2 separate regions of the Homo sapiens genome follow, and region 1 is linked to region 2. The links come from fine-mapping of genetic effects on gene expression. A gene starts in region 2. The other region holds a variant in brackets. All regions are shown on one strand. Distances are from middle to middle. Region 1 has its middle 15 kb from the start of TMEM92-AS1. Region 2 holds the start of XYLT2 (xylosyltransferase 2).

The links. PIP is the estimated chance that this variant, and not a neighbour inherited with it, causes the effect.
Region 1: its variant is fine-mapped to the expression of XYLT2 in whole blood (TOPMed, PIP above 0.99).

Annotation. Positions count from the first base shown.
Region 1 is chr17:50,297,755-50,308,777 of GRCh38, forward strand. No RefSeq gene overlaps it. Among named protein-coding and RNA genes, the nearest start is that of TMEM92-AS1, 15 kb to the left of the region's middle. RefSeq lists an enhancer at 5,282-6,264. The variant A/G (reference allele first, on the strand shown) is at 4,547.
Region 2 is chr17:50,337,715-50,349,859 of GRCh38, forward strand. XYLT2 (xylosyltransferase 2) reads left to right here and starts at 8,412. Exons shown (of 11, transcript NM_022167.4): 1 at 8,412-8,561. The coding sequence starts at 8,427. RefSeq lists silencers at 8,199-8,398, 8,459-8,558, 8,629-8,718, 9,534-9,828.

The sequences.
Region 1 (11,023 bases), 41 kb before region 2:
AATCCCAAGCACTTTGGGGGAATGAGGTGGGAGGATCGCTTGAGCCCAGTAGTTGACCAGCCTGGGCAACAAAGCAAGCCCCCCATCTCTACTAAAAATTAGCCAGGCATAGTGGTGTGTGCCTTTGATCCTAGCTATGTGAAAGGCTGAGGCAGGAGGATCGCTTGTGTCCAGGAGGTTGAGGTTGCAGAGCTGTGTTTGAGCCACTGCATTCTAGCCTGGGTGACATCGAGACCCTGTCTCAAAAAAAAAAAAAAAAAGAAAAAAAGAAAAGCTGGTTTCCTGGCACATTAGTGGCCAAGAAGGCTCAATGACAAAGCGGGGAGTTTTAACGACTACAGCTCTAGTCTCACCTTCTACAAAAGAGGAAACTAAGAGCCCTGCACTGTGGTGGAGTGTTTTTCCCAAGGCAGAGCTACACTGCTTCCCAAGGCAGGATGTGGCTTAGGGACAAAGTCACATTCGAAGGCAGGCCCCGAGGCCTGATTCCAGGGTTGCTTTATAGCACCGCTCAAAAGTGTTGTCCTTGGACCAGCAGCCTCAGGTCAGCTGGGAGCTTGTTAGAAATACAGGATTGCAGACCCCGCTGGCAACCTACGGACCCAGACTCCGCACTTTACCAGATCCCCCAGGAAATCCGGACGCCAGTCAGAGCCAGTGCGAGGGACTGGTTTAGAACACACTGCCTCTCAATGTTTTTAGGAGGGCACATGAAGATAGTTTTATTTCCCCAAGTGGAAATCACAGTATTGTTTATTCCTTTTTTTTTTTTTTTTTTTGAGATGGAGCTCTGTTGCCCAGGGTGGATTGCAGTGGTGCAATCTCTGCTTACTGCAACCTCCATCTCCCAGGTTCAAGGGATTATCTTGCCTCAGCCTCCCAAGCAGCTGGGAATACAGGCACCCGCCACCACACCTGGCTAATTTTTTTTTTTTTAAGTAGAGACGAGGTTTCACCATGTTGGCCAGGCTGGTCTTGAACTCCTGACCTCAGGTGATTTGCCCACCTCAGCCTCCCAAAGTGCTGGGATTACAGGTGTGAGCCACTGCCCCTGGCCAGCATTGTTTATTCTTGGTTATAGTAGTTCTGCATGCTCACTATAAAAAAATCAGACAATATAGGATAATTTAAAGAAGAAAGCAATAAATATTGTGTTGTGTAAATATCCTTCTGGACATTTTCTATACACACACACTTCTTTTTTTTTTTTTTAGATGGAGTCTCGCTCTGTTGCCCAGGCTGGAATGCAGTGGGGTGATCTCAGCTCACTGCAACTTCTGCTTCCTGAGTTCAAGCAAGTCTCCTGCCTCACCCTTCCAAGTAGCTGGGATTACAGGCATGCACCACCACACCCGGCTAATTTTTGTATTTTTAGTAGAGACGGGGTTTCTCCATGTTGGCCAGGCTGGTCTTGAACTCCTGACTTCAGATGATCTGCCCACCTTGGCCTCCCAAAGTACTAGGATTACAAGTGTGAGCCACCGTGCCTGGCCCACAACATTTTTACAAAAATCAGATTATGTGTGTATCCTCCATATTGTCTTGTCGCCTTTTCTTTCTCTTCTTTTTTTTTTCTGAGACAGGATCTTGCTCTGTTGCCCAGGCTGGAGCGCAGTGGCATGATCACAGCTCACTGCAGATTCAACCTCCTGGGCTCAAGCAATCCTATCTCAGGGTCCCGAGTAGCGGGGACTACCAGGGTGTGTGTGTGTGTACATATATATATTATATGTATACATGTGTGTACATATACACACACATATAAATATATATACATATATAGATTGTATATATATATTTTTTTATTTTGTAGAGATGAGGGTCTCACTATGTTGTCTAGGTTAGTCTTGAACCCCTGGGCTCAAGTGATCCTCCCACCTTCACCTCCCAAAGTGATGGGATTTCTGGCATGAGCCACCACACCTGGCCAGCCTTGGATATGATTTCTCTTTTTTTTTTTTTTTTTTTTGAGACGGAGTCTTTGCTCTGTCGCTCAGGCTGGAGTGCAGTGCTGCAATCTTGTCTCACTGCAACCTCCGCTCCCTGGGTCAAGTGATTCTCCTGCCTCAGCCTCCTGAGTAGCTGGGATCATAGGTGCACCACAACACGCCTGGCTAATTTGTTTTGTTTGTTTGTTTTGTTTTTGTTTTTGTATTTTTAGTAGAGACTCATGCAACTGCAGCTGCTTGGGTCACTCAGGAGCCCTCATGACCATCACCCACCCCTTTTCCCTGCCTGGAATTCTCCTCTGCTCACCCACTCCACCCCTCCCTCCACCCTCACCCAGTAATTCCTATCTGCGTTTAGGCTTGGCCTGAAATGTCAGCTCCTGGGGAGGCCTGGGAACACTGAGGCTGGATCCCCTTGGCATTCACTCCTCTAGTGCCCTTTCTTTTCTCCTTTGGAGACATTTATCACAAATTCATGAAGTTTCCACTTGAATAAGAATTTGTTTATGTCTTTCTTGTCCTTGAAAGCAGGGCGTGTGTGTCTCTGGGCTTAGGGACCCCTCTGTGCCTCACACTTTGTACAGGGCCTGGCACATAGCAGATGCTCAGAACATGCTTGTGACAGGATGAAATGAAGGGGTGGATGTTGCGGGTCCTCAGTGCACACTCGGCTTGGGTTTCTACTTGATCGTGTCAATCAAGCTCAGATTCAGAGCTGCTAGGGAACTGAAGGTCTCTTTGGGGGCACTGCCTCTCAGCAACACTATTGCACAGAGGGATTTTCTGATTACAGCACCAGAAAGAGCTCACCCCAGGTCTGGTACACAGAAAGCACTCTGCAGGCCAGGTGTGTTGACTCATGCTTGTAATCCCAGCACTTTGGGGAGTTGAGGTGGGCAGATCACCTGAGGTCAGGAGTTTGAGACCAGCCTGGCCAACATGGTGAAATCTCCTCTCTACTTAAATACAAAAAATTAACCAGGTGTGGTGGCATGTGCCTGTAGTCCCACCTGCTCGGGAGGCTGAGGCAGGAGAATTGCTTCAACCTGGGAGGCAGAAGTTGCAGTGAACCGAGATCACTCCACTCCACTCCAGCCTGGGCAACAGAGCAAGACTCTGTCTCAAAAAAAAAAAAGAAGAAAGAAAGAGAGAGAGGGAAAGAAAGAAAGGAAGGAAGGAAGGAAGGAAGGAAGGAAGGAAGGAAGGAAGGAAGGAAGGAAGGAAGGAAAGAAGGAAGGAAGGAAAGGAAGGAAAGAAGGAAGGAAGGAAGGAAGGAAGGAAGGAAGGAAGGGAAGGAAGGAAGGAAAGAGGAAAAGAAAAAAGAAAGCACTGTCTGGAATAGCAGCTCCTTGGTGGTGGTGTGGAGGCTGGCACGGGTGTGCCCCCACTTGCTCCAGCTTGTAACACCCTCAAGTTTCCATGTGTCTTTGCCTCTTTCCAGACAGGCCACACTGAACAGCATATAACAGCACATATTCCAAACACAAGCAGGGAGGTGGTGCTGTAGGGTGACTTCATGGTTTATTAAACATGGACAGAGAACTACTAATGTGCCAGGTACTGTTCTGACCCTAGGTCCACAGAGATGGTGAAGACAGAAACTCTATCACAGTCGCTCACAGCCTAGAAGCAAGGAGACCAGTCAGTACAATGCAGTGGAATGCATGTCATGGTAGCGGTGAGTTCAATGCCAGGAGTAGGGGGACCACAGAGGCAGTGAGTGCCTCTGTAGTGAGCAGAGGCCACACCCTTCCAATGTTTTTTGTTGTCGTTGTTTTGTTGTTTTTGAGACAGAGTCTCATTCTCTTACCCAGGCTGCTGGAATGCAGTGGTGACATCTCCGCTCACTGCAACCTCCACCTCCTAAGTTCAAGCAATTCTCATGCCTCAGCCTCTTGAGTAGCTGGGATTACAGGTGTGTGCCACCACAGTCAGCTAATTTTTATATTTTTAGCAGAAACAGTGTTTCACCATGTTGGCCAGGCTGGTCTCGAACTCCTGACCTTGGGTGATTTGCCCACCTTGGCCTCCCAAAGTGTTGGGATTACAGGCGTGAGCCACTGCGCCCGGCCAGCCCTCTTAAAATCCATCCAAACGTTCCCATATCTCTTGAAATAAAATAATTTTTAAAAAGGTATCCAAGGTCTGGGATGGTCTGGCCTCTCCCAACACCCACACCCTCACCTCCCAGCCTTGTCCTCTCGCTCTCTGTATCCAGCCACATCATCATTTTCTCAGCCCCTTCCATGTGCCAAGCTCTGTCCCACCTGGAGGTCCTCACAGATACTGGTTCCTCTGGCTGGAACCCTTCCCATGAGCACATTTTTGTGACTGGGCACGGGCATACACGAGGCTACTGAACAAACTGCTTTACTTCAGCCTTCAGTTCTGTTCCCAGTGCCCCGTGAAGGGTAGGCCCTCAATAAATATTTGCTGAGCAGACTACCTTTTATTCCTCACATTCATGGCAAACAGTTTCCCTAGATTATGGCTTGCCCTTAAATTTATTGTTTCTTTAACCTTCAGAAGTTTTACATTTTGATGTCGTCAGATCATCCAATCTCTCTTTTGGGGTTTCTCTGTTGCTTTACACACAG[A/G]AAGTTTCAGAGGTTTCATAACGGCTAGTGCCTTGAGCAAGGGCCCAAGTTTGAGGGATTTGAATCAGAAGGAACAGGAAGCTGATAACCTTGGTAGAAGCTGATGGAGGGAGTTGTGTGGCAATACCAGGTGCAATGGCGATATGGGGTTAGCATGTCTTGGGTGTGGCGTTCTTGGTCTAGCATTTTCCTCACGGTGCTCACCAACTCCTTAATGGGTCTGGAAAGTATTAACACCCTGGTATGTGTTAAGGAAAAGCAAATCAGAGCCCACTGTTTGCTAGGCATTGTGTTAAGCACTGGGGAACTGACTTTTTTTTTTTTTTTTTTTGAGACAGGGTCCTTCCTCTGTCACCCAGGCTGGAGTGCAGTGGCCCAATCATAGCTCAGTGTAGCCTCCAACTCCTGGGCTCAAGCAATCCTCCCACTTTAGCCTTCCAGGTAGCCAGGACTACAGGTGTGTGCCACCTGGCTAATTTTTTAATTTTTTACAGAGGTGGAATCTTGCTATGTTGCCCAGGCTGGGGAACTGACTTTAAAGGTAAGAATCAAAGAATAGAGCAGTAGTTTATTATGTGCAGGCTGTGTGTGTGTGTGTGTGTGTGTGTGTGTGTGTGTGTGTATAAATGTGTCTGTTAGGGATTCCAGACAGAGGGAAAAATATCTGTGAGGAGTCCAAGGTGGAATATAATCAGACGGTCCTCATTAAATCCCAAAGGAGGCTGCAATCGCCAGCTCTCTCATTCAAAACTCAAAGAGAGGTTTTGAGGGAAGGCAAGGAGAGGACGTTATTGACCATGATGTGTGGCCACATTCTTGAGGGTCTCAGCCCAGCCCCAGTTGCCTTAGAGGACAGGACCAGGCTGCTTTTAGACTACAGCCGCCATGACTCTCCACACGCTGCGGCAAGAGTTAAGGCAAAGCCGATAGTACAACACAGCAGTTGTCCCAGGTGAAGCCCTTGTCAACAGGCGTCCTGCGGCTTTGTGACTGATTGTTCTATCCTTGGCTCGGAGAAGGGGCAGCCATTTGATGTTCAAAAATACCTGTAAGCGGCTGAGCTTAGTGGCTCCTGCCTGTAATCCCAGCACTTTGGGAGGCTGAAGCTGGCGGATCACCTGAGGCCAGGAGTTTGAGACCGGCCTGGCCAACATGGCGAAATCCTGTCTCTATCAAAAATGTAAAAATTAGCCGGGTGTGGTGGTGCACTACTATAATCCCAGCTACACAGGAGGCCTAGGCAGGAAAATCACTTGAACTTGGGCGGCAAAGTTTCCAGTGAGCCGAGATCAAGCCACTGCACTCCAGCCTGGATGACAGAGTGACACCCTGTCTCAAAACAACAACAAGGAAAAAACCCTGTAACCTACAGCCATTTAGGTGTAGGGTAGAGCATTTAACCTCATGGGGTGGATAAATCAATCAAAGTGCTGTTCAGGCCTCCCCAGTCCTTAGTCCAGCAAGGTGACGTTGGCAGAGGGTCTCTCACTGCCCGGGGGAGACAAGTGAGAATAAACGACAACACAATGACTCCCAACTGTGGGCATTTAAGCGGGAGCCAGGCCTTGTGCTGAACAAGCAGTTCCCTTGTGTATAACCTTAGATGGTGGGTGTGGCTCTTTATTTTCTTTTTTTACAACTTTTTTTAAAATCTTTTTTTTAATCTTTTTTTTTTTTTTTTTTTTTTTTTCTGAAATAGTCTCGCTCTGTAGCCCTGGCTGGACTGCAGTGGCGCTATCTCGGCTCACTGCAACCTCCGCCTCCTGGGTTCAGCAATTCTCCTGCCTCAGCCTCCTGAGTAGTTTGAACTACAGGTGCCCGCCACCATGTCCAGCTAATTTTTGTATTTTTATTAGAGATGGGGTTTCATCATATTGGTCAGGCTGGTCTCAAACTCCTGACCTTGTGATCTGCCCACCTCAGCCTCCCAAAGTGCTGGGATTACAGGCATGAGCCACCGCACCCAGCCTCCAAAAAATTATGTTTTTTGAATCATAAGGCGTGACTCTTATTCCCACTTTACAGATAAGAATGGGATGCTTAGAGAGGTTTGCCCCGAGTTGCTTAGCTATAACTGCAAAAGTCCAGGATTCAGACCCAGATTGCCTGCCTCTGTGGCCATGCGAGGAACTGTAATGCCCTGTGGTCTCCCAGATCGTGGTGAAGGAAGGAACATGTCTGAGGACCAGAAGTGGACACACACGAGGCAAGATTGGGAACTCAATGTCAGATATCTCTCGGGGAAGAACATGACTTCTGAGACTTTGACTCAGAAAAGGATGGGCTTCATGGGGATGCTGGGATGCCACTCTGCAGGCATTTCTTATAAATATCTCCTCTGTCCTGTTGCAGGGCTGGAAGAGAACGATTTCAGTAGCATTAGGGCTGTGTAGGCTGCAAATGAATAGCAGGAGCTGGCTAGCCACATACGGACAAAAGTGGGGAAACACTGGCATAGTGGCTGTTAAGAAATATGGGAAGAAGGCTGATGTTACATGCTGTCACACACAATGTCACATGCTGTTATATGTGATGTTACATGCAGTTACATGCAACATTACGTACAATGTTCCATGCTGATGTTACATAATGTTACATCATCTTACATGCACTGTTACATGCTGATGTTACATAGTATTATGTGCATGGTTACATGGTGATGTTACATATTACATGCTGTTACATGAGAGGAAGTCTGTTGGGCTGTCTGCTGTGTGACAGCTGGCAGAGGGAGGCTGTCCCCAAGGAGTATACAGGGCAAGGTGCCCAACTAGGCTGAGAGAGGCATGGGCATCCAGTCCTCACAAAGAACAGAGAGGGGCCACCTCCCCTTGCGGCAGGCCCCGGGCTGCCTGCCTGGAGGAGGGGAACCCCAAAACGTGGGCTGGAGACAAGTGAGTGGGAAAGGAATGTGGTGAAGCACTCAGCTAGCGATCTGGGAACAGTGGCGAGCGCCACAGACTCATTCACTGAACTGTGAGACTCCAGGAAGCCTTTGTGTGTCTCTGTGCCTGTGTGTTTATAAACTTCTTCCCTTCCAAGTTGGAATCAAGACTTATTTGGCAAAGAATGTTGTCCTTGGGGAGGGAGACTGCCCAGAGGTGGAAAACATGTAGATGAATTCGTTTCTTAGAGTTCTAGATATGGCTTATCTGTCCAAGGCTCTGGCATTTTTCTAAGATAAATAATTGGATTGTTCAAACTGTGAAAATGAACATAGTGAAAACTTTGGAAAACTCTTAGTGTATGAATCTGGGGGGTCTGTACTGATTTGAAGTGTGACAAAATTGGGGCTTCCATCATTTTTTCTGTGTGTTGAGCGGTTTTTTTGTTTGTTTGTTTGTTTTGTTTTTGAGATGGAGTCTTGCTCCTGTCTCCCAAGCTGGAGTGCAGTGGCCTGATCTTGGCTCACTGTAACCTCTGCCTCTTGGGTTCAAGCAATTCTCCTGCCTCAGCCTCCTGAGTAGCTGGGATTATAGGTGCCTGCCACCACAGCTGGCTAATTTTAGTACTTTTAGTAGAGAAAGGGTTTCACCATGTTGGCCTGTCTGGTAGAGACAGGGTTTCACCATGTTGGCCAAGCTGGTCTCAAACTCCTGACCTCAAGTGATCCACCCTCCTTGGCCTCCCAAAGTGCTGGGATTACAGGCGTGAGCCACTGCGCCTGGACTGAATGGTTTTTTTTGAAGAAAATACAGTTGTACCCCGCACTATAATTTTTTATTGGATGAGACTAGAAATATGACCTTATATTGTTAGCTTTGTTTTAATTAATTGGTAGACTCTTTTGAGAGTAGTTTTAGGCTTATGGAAACATTGAGTGGGAAGTACAGACAGTCCCTCATATTTCTCTATCCCCTATGCCCACAGTTTCTCCTATATTAATATCTTGCATTAGGGTGGTGTATTTGTTACAACTGAGCCAATGTTGATGCATTATTATTAATCAAAGTCTATCATTTACTTGAGGGTTCACTCTTCACATTGTACATTCTATAGCTTTCGACAAACATAATGATATGTATCCACCATTATGGTATCATATAGAATAGTTTCACTGCCCTAAACATTCCCTGTGCCACACCTGTTATTAATAGCTTTTTCAAAGGAAGATTTAGATTTCAGTGTTTTTCCCTTCCACTTTCTTTTAGAAAGTAGAAATTCTGTTGCATCCTTCCCAGTCACATTTCTACCTTGCTCGGCACTGCTCTCCCACACACACATTCTAAGAAGCTGGTCAAAATAATTCCTCACTGTCAACCTCCAAAGGGATGGCCAGGAGATGCTCAGCACCTCAATTTGACATGACAGGCCCTTTAGGAGTTGAGATGTTTACATGACTGTCCCCTGACATTGTAATGGGAGGTCGCTTCCCATGGTCCCAGCTCAGGAGTCCCGGGTGGTTTTCATTCCACTCATCCACATACGGGTATTGCTCTCAGTCAGAAGCAACAGAAACCCAACTCAGGCCGGGTGCGGTGGCTCACACCTGTAATCCCAGCACTTCGGGAGGCTGAGGCAGGCAGATCACGAGGTCAGGAGTTTGAGACCAGCCTGGCCAACATGGTGAAACCCTGTCTCTACTAAAGACACAAAAAATTAGCTGGGTGTGGTGGTGCATGCCTGTAATCCCAGCTACTTGGGAGGCTGAGGCAGGAGAACTGCTTGAACCCGGGAGGCAGAGGTTGCAGTGAGCCAAGACTGAGTCACTGCACTCCAACCTGGGCAACAGAGTGAGACTCCATCAAAAAAAAAAAAAAGAAACCCAACTCAGACTAACTTAGTCAGCAGGAGAAATTTAAATACCATAACAAAGACACCACTCAGAACTGGCCCTGCACAAGGTAAAGTCTCCATGGTGTCTAGTGGGGCTGGGTTAGCATCAATCTCCAAAGGACCCCTTGATCTTTTTTTTTTTTTTTTTAATAAAGCCTGGGTCTCACTCTCGCTTTGTTGCCTGGGCTGGTCTCGAACTCCTGGGCTCAAGCCATCATGCTGCTTCAGCTCCCCAAAGTGCTGGGATTGGGTCTTTGTATCTTGATGAGATGATAGAGATGACAATGACTTTTATCTTTTTTGTTTGTTTTGAGACAGGTTCTTGCTCTGTCACCCAGGATGGAGTGCAGTGGTGCCATCACGGCTCACTGCAGCTTTGACTTCCTGGGCTCAGGCCATCCTCCCACCTCAGCCTCTGGAGTAGCTGGGACCACAGGCACATGCCACCATGCCCAGCTAATTTTTGTATTTTTGGTAGAGATGGGGGGGGGGGGGTCTCACAATGTTGCCCAGGCTGGTCTTGAACTCGTGAGCTCAAGCAGTCCACCTGCCTCAGCCTCCCTGAGTGCTAGGATTTCAGGTGTGAGCCACCGCATCTGGCCCTTTTATTTGTTTCATTGTGCCAGGGCCTTTAATCTCTTTCATTGTTTGAGGGGATTGGTCTTAATCTAGGAGGGCTGCATATCTCCCCAGGTGCACAAATACAAAGTCAGGTTATTTCCTTCTCCTCTGGCCTTTTGTGCCTTTCCTTGTTAAAGGTCCAGTTCACTTACCTCATCTTTGTGAAGTTGCCCAACTCGGGCAGTTGAGTTGACTTGTAAAGAGGGTGAGTTTGACCCCCACACTTGCCGCAGGGAGACGGTTAGCTGCCTCTCAATCCTGCCAGGCTAGTTCTTCCCCTCTGTGGCTGGAAACCCAGGCAGGCCCCTGACAACTCTGGCCATCTTTTCTCCAGTCCCTTCAGGTCACAGAACAGTGTCAATTTAGTCATTAAAAGGTCTGATTCTGCAAAAGAGTGAAAACATCAATTCCCCTTGCAGAGAGATGTAGGAGACCAGAATATGCCACCCCAAACTGTGCCCCTTTGGCACAAGGATTATTTTGAGTTTAAGACAATTGAGATGAAGCAGATATAAGGAGGCCTCTGCTCTCCCGCTATTTGCCTAAAAGTAGGACATAAACTTACAAAGGTGCCCTCCCCCCATCTACCAGGAAGGACAAAGTTTGGCCACCAGAGACAGCTTTAGACCCTTATCAGCAACAGAACAATCTCCATAACAAACCTTACAAGCTAGCCTCTATATACAATTTATTTGTGTTCTCACAATCTGCCACCCCTAGAGATTCCAAGTCCTTTCCCCTGGTCTTGTTATTTGTCTAAAAATTTATTGTGGCTGGGTGTGGTGGCTCATGCCTGTAATCCCAGCACTTTGGGAGGCCGAGGTGGGTGGATCACTTGAGGTCAGGAGTTAAAGACCAGCCTGGCCAACATGGGAAACCTCGTCTCTACTAAAAATACAAAAATTAGCCGGGTGTGATGATGGGCACCTGTAGTCCCAGCTACTCTGGAGGCTGAGGCACAAGAATCGCTTGAACCTGGGAGGCAGAGGCTACAGCGAGCTGAGATCATGTCATGGCACTCCAGCCTGAGCAACAGAGCGAGACACCATCTCAAAATAATAATAATAAATAAAAATAAAA
Region 2 (12,145 bases):
TGGGCAATATAGTAAGATGCTCCTTGTCTAAAAAAAGAAAAAAAAATTTTTTTAAAGAATTCTAATTCTTGCTTTCTAAATTATTAAGGAAGATTATAGCAGACGAACAGTCTATATAGCCCTGAAAGGAAAATTAACAGCAAAATGCGTTTAAGGCCTAAAACTCAGGCGCAGTATTAAATGCTGATACTGACTTTATATGCGGTGAAATTGGGAGGCTTTGACTGGCCTAGCCACAAGTTCACCTCCTCACTCTGCTCCCTTGGATAAGGTCCCCCAGCCAAATAACCCCCCTTATCAAGGGGACCAGGAGCACTTCCTGCTTATTCCTGAGTAGTGGGTTTCAGTTTCCTGCCAGCCTGCAGCCTGCATAATTATCCACATAAGCCAGTCACATCTTCCTGCTGAAACTAGGGGACATCTCATCCTCTTGATACTACAAAGCCTGCCTCCCACAGCCCTTAGTTGCTCACTGTCTCTGAGCGCAACCCCTGTGTGGCCCTGCATGGTGTGTGATATCCTGCCCTGGGCTATGAGTATATGTGACTAATACACTACTGTCAATCTCATCTGCCCAGAATCAAATGTCGTGTGTTTGGCCATCTCTGTAAACCTAGGATGGGAATCCCTCCCTCACCAATGGAGTGAATAGCACAGAAAATATTAAGGAAAGCCATTAAGTAAGTTGATAAAAGCTGTACCAACCCTGGTACTGCTGGAAGAGAAAAAGGAGAATAGAAGATTTTACCAATCCAACAGAATATAGTAAAGGGAAAAAAAGTGGAGAAAGAAGGCAGTGAGCAGAAAATGTGGAATAATCATAATCAAAGAAAATCCAAATAATCCATTAATGGCACTAAATGTAAACTGATTAAAGAAACAGTAAAACTTAGAGTATCAGATTGAGTTTTAAAAATCAAAATCCTCTTGTATGTTACTAATATTTTCCTTGAATTCTGAAATAATCTCAGCTATCATAGCTTCAATATTATTTCCTTGCCATTTTCCTTATTTTCTTACTCTGGAAATCCTGTTATACATAGTTTGAGTCTCTCAATCTATTCTCCTACTCTTCAAACTGTTCTTATTTTTAATCAAAGTACCTCTTTTTGCTGCATTCACTGTCAATTCTTTAGAGCTATCTTCCAATTCACTAATTTTATCTTCAACTATATCCAGTCTAAAGTTCACCCTATCTTTTGAGATATTTTTATTGCTTTTCTACATTTTTATTTCTGAGATGTATAATTATTTATATTTCATATGTATATCTTCATTTCATTTTCATCTACATTTGTTTCATAATTTCTTGTTTGTCAGATGATTTCTTCATTTACTTCTTTGAGCCATCCTTATTTTCAAGTCTTTGTCATATGAGTCCAAGAGATGAATTTCATGTGGAGAAAGTTCATATTCCAGTTGTTGAATTGCTTGGCTATCTTTTTTATCATTCCATTTCTTCATGTCCTTTGGAATTTGGGTTTACAGGCTCATTGTAGCTGAGAATTTTTGTTTTTGCATTGTGCTTTTTACTCTCTCCTTTTTTGTCTGGTGGGTTTAGTTTCGTCATGGCATTCACTGTGCCCTAGTCCAGAAATAGTTTTGTGATAGTGGTTGGGAACTCATGCTCTTCACTGATATTGGGAGATGTGCAGACCCAGAGTTAGAGGATGGCTTGACCTAAGTCTGGGTTGTGAGGCTGTTTTTGTTCTGCAGCCTTCCTAGGTCCACCATTTGGGCCATAGCTCCTGAGATCTGGTCAGCTGCACTTTTTGTTTTCAGTCTCCTTTCACAAGCAGGGTAGCCTCACTCTAGTCTGTGGCTGCTGCCAGAGTCTGGTTCCATCCCCCATTCCCTGTGCAACATTTTAGTTCCCATTACCCCATAGGCCCTTGGCTTTGGTCCTACTCACCACTTTGCTTTCCAGTTTGTTCTCTTTCTTATCCACCTAAATGTTTATCCTGTTTTTAAGCTTGTATATATCTTATCAATGCCTTTAAAAACTTTATCTCTCATTGTTAAGTATTTGGAGAATAGAGAGTGGGTCAAAGTATGAACTTTCCAACCTTCCCCTCATTATTTTATTTATTAATTTATTTCTTTTTTGAGACCGAACCTAGCTCTGTCACCCAGGCTGGAGTGCAGCGGCCTGATCTTGGCTCACTGCAACCTCCACCGCCCGGGTTCAATTCTTCTACCTCAGCCTCCTGAGTAGCTGGGATTACAGGCACGTGCCACCATGCCCAGCTAATTTTTGAATTTTTAGTAGAGACAGGGTTTCACCATGTTGGCCAGGCTGGTCTCAAATTCCTGACCTCAAATGATCCACCCCCACTTGGCCTCCCAAGTGCTGGGATTACAGGTGTGAGCCACCACACCTGGCCTCATTAATGTTTCAGTCACTTGGAATGGAGTGGAGACAGAGTTTCTACTTCTCACAGTGGAAATATACTAGCCAATAGAATCTGGGGGTGAAAGAGCTGAGCACTGAGACTGCAACCCTGGGAGTCCAAGTAATGGGCACTTTGTCTAGGCTTAGTAAGCAGGTCAAGGAAGTGGATCAGAGGAGCAGTGAAAGCCCGTATGGGCAACTTCTAATTATGGACCAGCTTCCTATAGCAACCCCATGTAGAAGTAAGATGATTTGCAGGAGCAGAATATTCCATCACCAGTGCTCTTCAGCTTGGGTGTGGAAGCCCAGTTCATATCCCCGGGTGAATTACACGTGCCCACCCCACAGGCTTTTTAGACAACTAGAGGACCAAAGAGGAAGCGAATATTGCATATGGGCTCTCGGCTGGCTAAATAGAAAAATGAAAGATATGTGGACCTTTCATTTTTGGAACACTTCATACTGTTGACATACAATATAAATAAAATAACTGCAAAAGAAAAATAAGAGAGATGCAGTGGAGTGTTTACATTTTTCTCTAGAATAACATTCATAATGACGATGTTGATTCTGTTAAGTAAGAATTATAGGAGGCCATTGTTTTGTACTGAGCTCCTGCACTAGGCTCCAACAGACCAGACTAAAAATCAAAATGGATTCACTCATGCTGGGGTTTCAAAATTGATATTTTGTCCTTTAATACCTCTATTTTCCCCCTATTGGTTATTTTGTGCTATCAGAATTTTGTGCTATTTTTTGGCAGGAGATGGGAGGATGGTCAAAAGTCAAAATTACAACAAAAATAGTTTAAAGATCTTAATTGGCTTTATTTGTGATTCTAGAATCAGGCAACACTTCACCCATAAAATAGAAAAGTATTCCAGGGAGCCCAGCAGAGGAGGTTGGGCTTACAGACAGAGAAGGGCTGAAAACAGCAGATGCAATGAGCAAAGAGCATCTTCATTAATTTTCAAAGTTACTTTTTTGTGGTAAGGCAGGAATATAGAGACAGAACAATAGAAAATAACTGATGAGTGAACATCAGGTTACTTCAGGCTAACTTTGTAATGTAAGGATTAAAGCAGAGGGAACTTATGCCAATTAAAATTTTAAACTGGCCTGTTTGGGAAATTGGCCATTATTTCTCTCTCTTGATTTCTCACAAGGTCAGATAGTGACTCCATTTTGATTTTTAGTCTGGTATGTTGGGGTCTAGCACAGGAAATTAGCCATATATATATACTTTTTTTTTTTTTTATACAGGATCTCCTTCTGTTGCCCAAGCTGGAGTGCAGTGGCACAATCATAGCTCACTACACTCTCAACCTTCTGGGCTCAAATGATTCTCCTGCCTCAGCCTCCCTAGTAGCTAGGACTATAGGCGTGCACCACCATGCCTGGCTAATTTTTTTTTATTTTTATAGAGACAGGGTCTCACTATGTTGCCCAGGCTAGTCTCAAACTCCTAGGCTCAAGCAATCCTCCTGCCTCAGTTTCCCAAAGTGCTGGGATTGCAGGTGTGAGTCACCATGCCTGGCCCTCCTATAATTTTTATTTAACAGAAGTTACCAAAGAATTAGCTCTCAAAGGGCTCCTGTTAGATGCTTTTGCTAGCAAGACTTTTCAAATGCTTAAGGAATAGCAGTGTCTACTGTTACATAAATTATTTCAAAAACAGAATTTAAAAAATGCTCTTCAACTTATGTTGTAGACTGGAATAACTGATTCCCAAATCTACCAAAGCTTTAACAACGAGAAAAGAAAACCACAAACTGGGGGTGTCTACAAGAGCCAGAAAATAACATAAATGGGTGCAGCTGATTGGGTATGAAATGAAAGGAAAAGGTGGGAGCTGCAGGCACTGGTGAGTGTGCACCCCTTCTTCAGGAATTCAAACTCAAATGCTTCAAAACCCTGTGCTGGTCAAATAAACAAGGCCTACAAGTTACCTCTGATTTTGCAGCTTCTGGTATATCTCCATTACAAACATAGATGTAAACATTCTTAGGCCGGGCATGGTGGCTCATGCCTGTAATCCCAGCACTTTGGGAGGTTGAGGTGGATCCCTTGAGCCCAGGAGTTCGAGACCAGCCTGTGCAACATAGTGAGACCCTGTGTCTACAGAAAATTTTTTAAAAATTAGCTGAGCATGGTGGTGCACCTGTGGTCTCAGCTTCTCAGGAAGCTGAAGCGGGGGATCACTTGAGTCCAGGAGTTCAATGTTACAGTGAGCTATAATCATGCCACTGTACTCCAGTCCAAGAGACAGAGTGAGACCCTGTCTCAAAATAATAAATAAATAAATAAGACCAGGTGCGGTGGCTCACACCTGTAATCCCAGCACTTTGAGAGGCCCAGGCCAGCGGATCATGAGGTCAAGAGATTGAGACCATCCTGGCCAACATGGTGAAATCCCATCTCTACTAAAAACAGAAAAATTAGCTGGGTGTGGTGATGTGTGCCTGTAGTCCCAGTTACTCGGGAGGCTGAGGCAGGAGAATCGCTTGAACCCGGGAGGCAGAGGTTGCAGTGAGCCAAGATTGTGCCACTGAACTCCAGCCTGGCAACAGAGCGAGATTCCATCTCAAATAAATAAATAAATAAATAAATAAATAAATAAATAAATAAAATATTAGTAAATCCAATTGAACTTATACTACAACTTAAAGAAAAAAAACAGCTGCTAATACCAAGTAACATTCATTCTAGGGATGCAAAAATGTTTTAATATGTGGAAATTATTTTTAAAATATTTCATAATCTCATTAGGTCATGCTAGAAAAACCCATATGATCCTTTCACTAGGTGTTAGAACTTCCTGACAAGCAGGGACCCAGGGATCCAGAGCTGGCGTGGGTGTGGACTGGCAGAGGGTACACGCAAAGGTAGCATCCAGAGGGAAAGCCAGGATCAGGGCCAGCAGACAGCCTAGTAAAGTGTCAATCAGAAGGAACTGGATGGATAAGCAGAAAGCAGATAAAGGCCACGGGACAGAGCCCGAGGAGATGCTTGGAGGCACAGCCTGGAGGTTTTCCTGCAGGGACCTCCATGCCTGCTGGTGTTGGACCAAATTCGGACTCTAGCTGCTGCAAATGCATTTGAAAACATTCAGCATACATGCCTCATAAAGTAGCCCTAAAAATGAAGACTATAAGGATCATTTCTTCACATAAGAAAGAATATATCATGCAGGCAGCCCAATTATGACTAAAGACTGCTTTCCTATTCTGCTTTTCTGAAAACCATTTTGTATTTTCAAGACTTTTTACAATAAAAGAAAAAAGCACAATGGAACCTATTAGAGAACCCGAAGAGGAGACAGAGGGAAACAATGATTCTTGCAATTTATATGGTGAAATCTAAGCCAGTCTATGCATGCTATACCTCAATAATCTGGGATTTTATTTTTAATTATTTTTTAGAGACAACTTGCCATGTTGCCCAGGCTGGTCTCAAATTCCTGGGCTCAAGCGATCCTCCTATCTCAGCCTCCTGAGTAGCTGGGAATTACAGGCACCACAATAACCAGATAACGAATTTGTTTAAAAAAAAAAAAAAAAAACAACAGTGGGCTGGGCTCGGCGGCTCATGCTTGTAATCCCAGCACTTTGGGAGGCCGAGACAGGTGGATCACAAGGTCAGGAGTTTGAGAATAGCCTGGCCAACATGGTGAAACCCCGTCTCTACTAAAAATACAAAAATAAGCCGGGCATGGTGGCGCGCACCTATAACCCCAGCTACTCGGGAGACCAAGGCAGGAGAATTTCTTGAATCCGGGAGGCAGAGGTTGCAGTGAGCCGGGATTGTACCACTGCACTCCACCCTGGGTGGCAGAACGAGACTCAAAAAAAAAAAAAAAAAAAAAAAAAAAAAAAAAAAGCCAGGCGCGGTGGCCACGCCTGTAATCCCAACACTTTGGGAGGCTGAGGTGGGCAGATCATGAGGTCAGGAGATTGAGACCATCCTGGCTAACACGGTGAAACCCCGTCTCTCCTAAGAATACAAAAAAAAAAAAAATTAGCCAGTCGTGGTGGTGGGCGCCTGTAGTCCCAGCTACTACTTGGGAGGCTGAGGCAGGAGAATGGCGTGAACCTGGGAGGCAGAGCATGCAGTGAGCCGAGATCGCGCCACTGCACTCCAGCCTGGGCAACAGAGCAGACTCCGTCTCAAAAAAAAAAAAAAAAAAAAGAGAGAAATGGGGGAAAGGAAAGGAAAGGATAGCCACTAAAATGTTAATGATGATCATCTTAAGGGGTGGGATTGTAGGTGACTTTTACTTTTTTTCTTATTCGTTTAGTGTTTAAATGTTATATAATGGATATTTATTACTTATATAATCAGTGAAAAATAAAGCTATTTTCATTGTTGTGGGGGGAATTCTTGGCAGGTAGAAGTCCCTAGAGGATCTGATTTAATGAGCACACAAGATCAATATTTAATTAACATATCAATTGCCGGGATGTCAACTGATGTTTTCCAAAATCATTGAAGTGTAGGCTCTCTTAAGTAGCCAAACTGTCGTCGGAAACATAGTTTACAATTCTCCCATTTAACAAACGCGGAGGAACAGAATGATTACAAATGCTAAAGCGCAGAAGACGATTAAAGGAGGTTATTTATGTACCATCAAATGCTTGTGTATCCTGTACACATCAGTTTAGAATTCTCTCATCAACCCAACCTTGTGGCAACTTCCAAACCCCTCCATCATGGCCTTCTAACTTTTCAAACTTTTTTTTTTGTAAGCCACTTCTCTTTCCAGACCTCTCTGTAGTGGTTCCTAACGTCTTCCCTTTAAACCTTCTAACTTGTGTTTGCTATTTTTATGACTTCCTCCTCCCAGTGCCTGGCTTCCCCAGCTGGGGATTCACCTTGCTTTGGTGGCCACTGTTTTGCTCTTCTCGCCTTCCCTCTCTCCATGGGCCTGCCAGGCTTAGGGAAGGCCGCAGGTGCTTAGACCTTGTCCAATGCGGTGCTCATTGAACACGCCGGGTTCTCAAACAAATGTTAGGGACAGCTGGTTAGACGGGAATCTGGGCCTCCCCTGCTTGCTTTCCGCAACATTTCTTGAGCATTGCTGGGTGTCCAAGGCAGGGCGAGATCCCAGAGCAGTCACGACCGGATGTATGATTGGTGCTCACTGCACAGTGCTGGGGACGCACAGGGAGGATGCCACTGATGGTGTAGGGGGTGGGGACTTGGCAGAGGGAGCAGCATGTGTCGAGGTCTACTGGTTCTCCAAGTTTGGTCCCAGAGCAAAGGCATCAGCATCACCTGGGAACCTGCTGAAAATTCTAATGCTTAGGCCTCACTACCGACCTACCAAAGCAGACACTCTGGGGGAGGGAGGAGGGGCACTAAAAATCTGTTTTATCAAGACCTCCAAGAGACTCCAACACACGCTAGAGTAGTTTGAGAACCACGACTCTGGGAGCGGCCTGAGGATGCTTAGGATGAGCGCAGAGCGGAAAGGAGGATTCGTGAAGGCTCTCTGATGCCAGTCAAGGGGTTAGACTTTGCCCCGCAGGTGCGGCCTCCAGGTTTTTAAGCAGACGCCTGTGGCTCTCACACGCCCTCTCCCAAGGCGGCGTCTCTGGGAGCCCTGGCGTTCCCTGGGCCCCCGGGACCGAGAGCTTACCCGCGTGGGACTGAACTCGCCCACGACCCCCGACACCAGGCAAGAGAGGTTGTGCCGCAGACCCTCCACTCCCCAGCACCAGGCGCTCGCCGTCCAGGTGGAGGGGAGCACACGTGGGAGCCAGGGGCACCGGCGGAGACACGAGCGCAGAAGGCACGCGCTCAAGCCCACGCCCGCGACTGCCGGGACTGAAGGTGTTGCGAGCCCCGGCTCCACCCCTAGCCTGCGGTGCGCCGTGCTTTGGCCCCGCAGGCCCCGCCCCCGGCCCCGCCCCGGCGCGCGCCCGGCCCGCCTCCCTAGGCGTGGAGGAGGGGGGGCGGCTCAGCCCCGCGCCCGTGCGCGCGCTCGCGGCCGGGTTGCAGGGCTGGGCGCGCGCCCCGCGTCCCGGGCAGGAAGATGGTGGCGAGCGCGCGAGTGCAGAAGCTGGTGCGGCGCTACAAGCTGGCGATTGCCACGGCGCTGGCCATCCTGCTGCTGCAGGGCCTGGTAGTGTGGAGCTTCAGCGGCCTGGAGGAGGACGAGGCGGGCGAGGTGCTCCGACGGCCGGGCGGGCGGGCAGGCCGGGCGCGGGGGCGCGCGGGGTCCTGGCGGGGCTGCGGGCGGCCCCAGCCGGGGAAGTGGGGCACGGGCCGCGTGCGTGCGTGCGGGGCGCCGGCGGTCGCCCAGAGCGGAGCATCCGGCCCCCGGCACTCCCTTCCCCAGCAGGCCTAGGGAGCTGCGCGCGGGGGCAGTGCGTGACCTGGAGACCCGGGCCCTGGTGGATTGGGAGTCGGGCGGGGGGAGCAGGTCATGCTAGGGTGGTCTCCGGCCAAGGGAGCGATGAAGGTCAGGCGCGGCGAGCGGGGCTGGGAGGCGGGGCTGGGCCCGAACCTGCTCGGAGGTGGGGAGCCCCAGGCCAAACTTTCTGAAGTTGGGAGGGGGCGGGGATATGCGCGCCGTGGGCGGAGGAGTAGGGCCAAGGGACTCAGGGCGTCCTTCCCCAGCTGAGCCCGAGGGGCAGCGGCCGGTGAGGAAGGGGAGCTCGGGGGTGGAATTCAGGCCTGGGACAAAGTGTGTACCCGGGAACTGAAGGAACAGGGAGTGACGCCGAAGGAGAGAACTGGAGTATTCCCGAGGTGTGGCTTCCTCAGCCGGGGGTTTGAAGAACCTGGATGGGTCTCCGGAGGGCAGGGAGAGGAGGAACTGAGCTGGTGAGTTGGCCTCAGGACCTTAGGGAATTAGGGAGGGGCCCTCTGGCTTTAAGGGAATGGGGACTGTAACAGAGCCCCAGCCGCAGAGCAGGGGCAACCAACAGCCGTCTCAGCCCCCAAGTCCCTGCCTCGAGGGTCTTTCTCCCTCTTCCCCGATGTGGTTTCAGCGGGAGGCTCAGACACCTCAGCGGTGTGGTGAGGAAGGGTCCATTGGGTCTGGGTTCGTGCTGCGGAGATGGAGAGGACAGGCCACACCACAGCCCTAAGCTGTGGCCCAGAGGTCAGGACCTCCCTGCCCCCAGCGCCCCTGTTCTGCTGCCTCCAGGGCTCCGGGTCAGAGACTCTATCTGCTGCTGTCCTCCGGCAAGCCCCGATACCCGCGACCCCTTACCGCATCTCGCCAGTCTGGAAGGCCTGGTGTGGAGACAGAAGAGCTGCCCTTGCCTTTTTTTGGGAGAACCCAGAGGGTGGGATGGTGATGGGGGCTGGAACAGAGTCACATGAGACCATAACTCCAAAAGGAGGTGGGGGCGGGGGTGGGGCTGGCTCCGTGACATCCGTGGGGTGTAGACCTACAAGTAGGACAAGCAAGTAGGAGAGTGTTTCAGGCCCAGTGTAAGAAGACTGTTTGGGCAGATGGGACATTCCAAGATGGAATGGGCTGCCAAAGCAGTTAGGGAGCCCTCTGACCCTGGAATATGTGACCACTCTGGGCTACCGCCCCCATCCCCCACCACCTCCTCCTCCAGCTTCCTGGCTGAATGAATAGGGGAATCCTGGGCTGGAATGTTTGAAAAAGCTTGTGCGGTCCAGGCACCCATTGCTGCTTGGACCCCCTCAGCTGCTCCCTCACCTGACTCTGGGGTTGCCAGGCAGCATAACGGGGTGCATGGGAAGGTGAGTGCTGAAGCTGGACCACCCACTTCACCACTCTCTTCCAGCTCTGACCCTGAGAAGACCACCAGCAAATCACTTTGCCTCCTCCCTTATCCTTATCAGTATCCCTCCTCAAGATGGGGATAATAATGGCACCTCCCGTGTTAGGTGATTATAAAGATTAAGTGAAAATGATGCCTGTGAAGCACTTGCAGGAGTTCCTGGCACATGCTCAGCTGTCAGTAAATAAATAACTCTTATTATCCCAGCACTGTGCATTGGGAATACGATTCATTCATTCATTCATTCATTCCACAAATAGGTGTGAAGTCCTACTTTGTACTAGACACTGTGCTAATACTGGGGATACAAAAATAAAATAGATGAGGTCTCTGCCCTCATGGACAGGTAATCTACAGAGAGAAACAGACAGCGAAAAGGAATTTAATAGAATTACAAAGGGGTTGGCTTAGATCAGGGGGTCAGGAAAGGCTTCTCACAGGAAGAGGTGGGCAGGAGAGTTCAGGCAGAAGGCCTGAGGAGAATGGGCTTAGCTGGGCACCCTTGAGGAATGGACAGGAGGGTGTGGTGCTTTCCCTGAAAGAAGGTTCCATTCTGTGCGGCTGAAAGGACCAGAGCAAGGGGCAAGGGTTTTATTCTAAGTGCAGTGGGAGAGCACTGAAGGGGTTTAAGCAGCACAGGATTCAGTGTGCATTTAAGACGTGCACTCTGCCCATCTATGGAGAGGCTGAGAGTGGATCCCAGGGATGGTCACGAACCTCCAGAGAGCCACTTTATAGTTTCCAAAGCTTCCACAAACACCATCTCACCACTTGTTTTAAATGCAGCCCGAGAAGTCAAAGGAGGTGGGGTATGGGGGGAGCATTTCTGTGTTCACCCTTTCTGTGACTCAGAGAAGGATTCTAAGGTGGAGCTACAGAGCCAGGAAGTGGCAGAGGATTTTAATCGCCTCCTTGGAGGAGAGGAAGGAGCCTCTGAGGCCAGAATGTATCCCAGCCAGAAGTCAGAGGACCATTCCCTACCCTCAGTCATCAGAAGGGCTCCTGACCTCAGGGGCTGCTGGGGGCAGCCTGTGAGGGGCACAAGGCTGGGGCTGTGATGACGATGCTCCTTGGACATGCCTGGAAGGGATGGAGGTGGGGGCTGACTGCCCACCAGGGCCTCTGCTCCCTCACTGCTGCCTCCTCATCCCCCAGCCTCCTCTGGGATTGTCCTTCTCAGGGTCAGCCAGCTCCCACTGCAGTGCAGGGACCAACATGCCCATCTCCTCCCACATCCTGGCCCCCACCACAGCCAACCTGGCCCCGTGCCTCATGCCCTGCCCTCCTGACCAGCTTCCTAACTCACTGATACTGGCTTCCACTCGGAGAGCCTACAGCTCTCTGCCATCTACCCACCTAAGCTTGGGAATGTCTTTCTCTGCTTGTGCTCTGTAGCCAGCTCACATGTCACCAGGCTGATGCACACTCAGCTCAGTGGGGCTGCATTTACCTTTCCTAGGGATTCCCCAGCCTGTGGTGCCCTCCCCAGTGTGGGTAGAGAATAGGGTCTGCTGCCTCCTCTTGCAGGTATCTCTTCTCGGATGGGAATGGGCGCCCCCAGCTCCCACTGGCCACCTTTAAGAGATCAGAGGGCAACCGGGCACTGTGGCTCATGCCTGTAATCTCAGCACTTTGGGAGGCCAAGGTGGGAGAAGCGCTTGAGTCCAGGAGTTCGAGACCAGCTTGGATAACATAGCAAGACTATCTCTATTAAAATAAATAAAATAAAAAGATCAGAAGGCTGGCTGGGTGCTAGGCACAGAGGGCATGGATGTAGGCATGGGGCTCTGGCCTGAAGGTAGCTGTCAGCCTGACAGCATGAGGTTCCTGATGTGCCCATACTGGTAGTGGGTAGGGTGTGGGTAGGGTAGTGGGTAGGTTGGGGGAAGTCCTGGGGAGGTGAGGAGCACAGAGAACCCAACCCAGCCGAGTCCAAGATGTCCAGGATCTTGGGTCTCTCTTGACTTCACGTTTGACTAATTTCCTC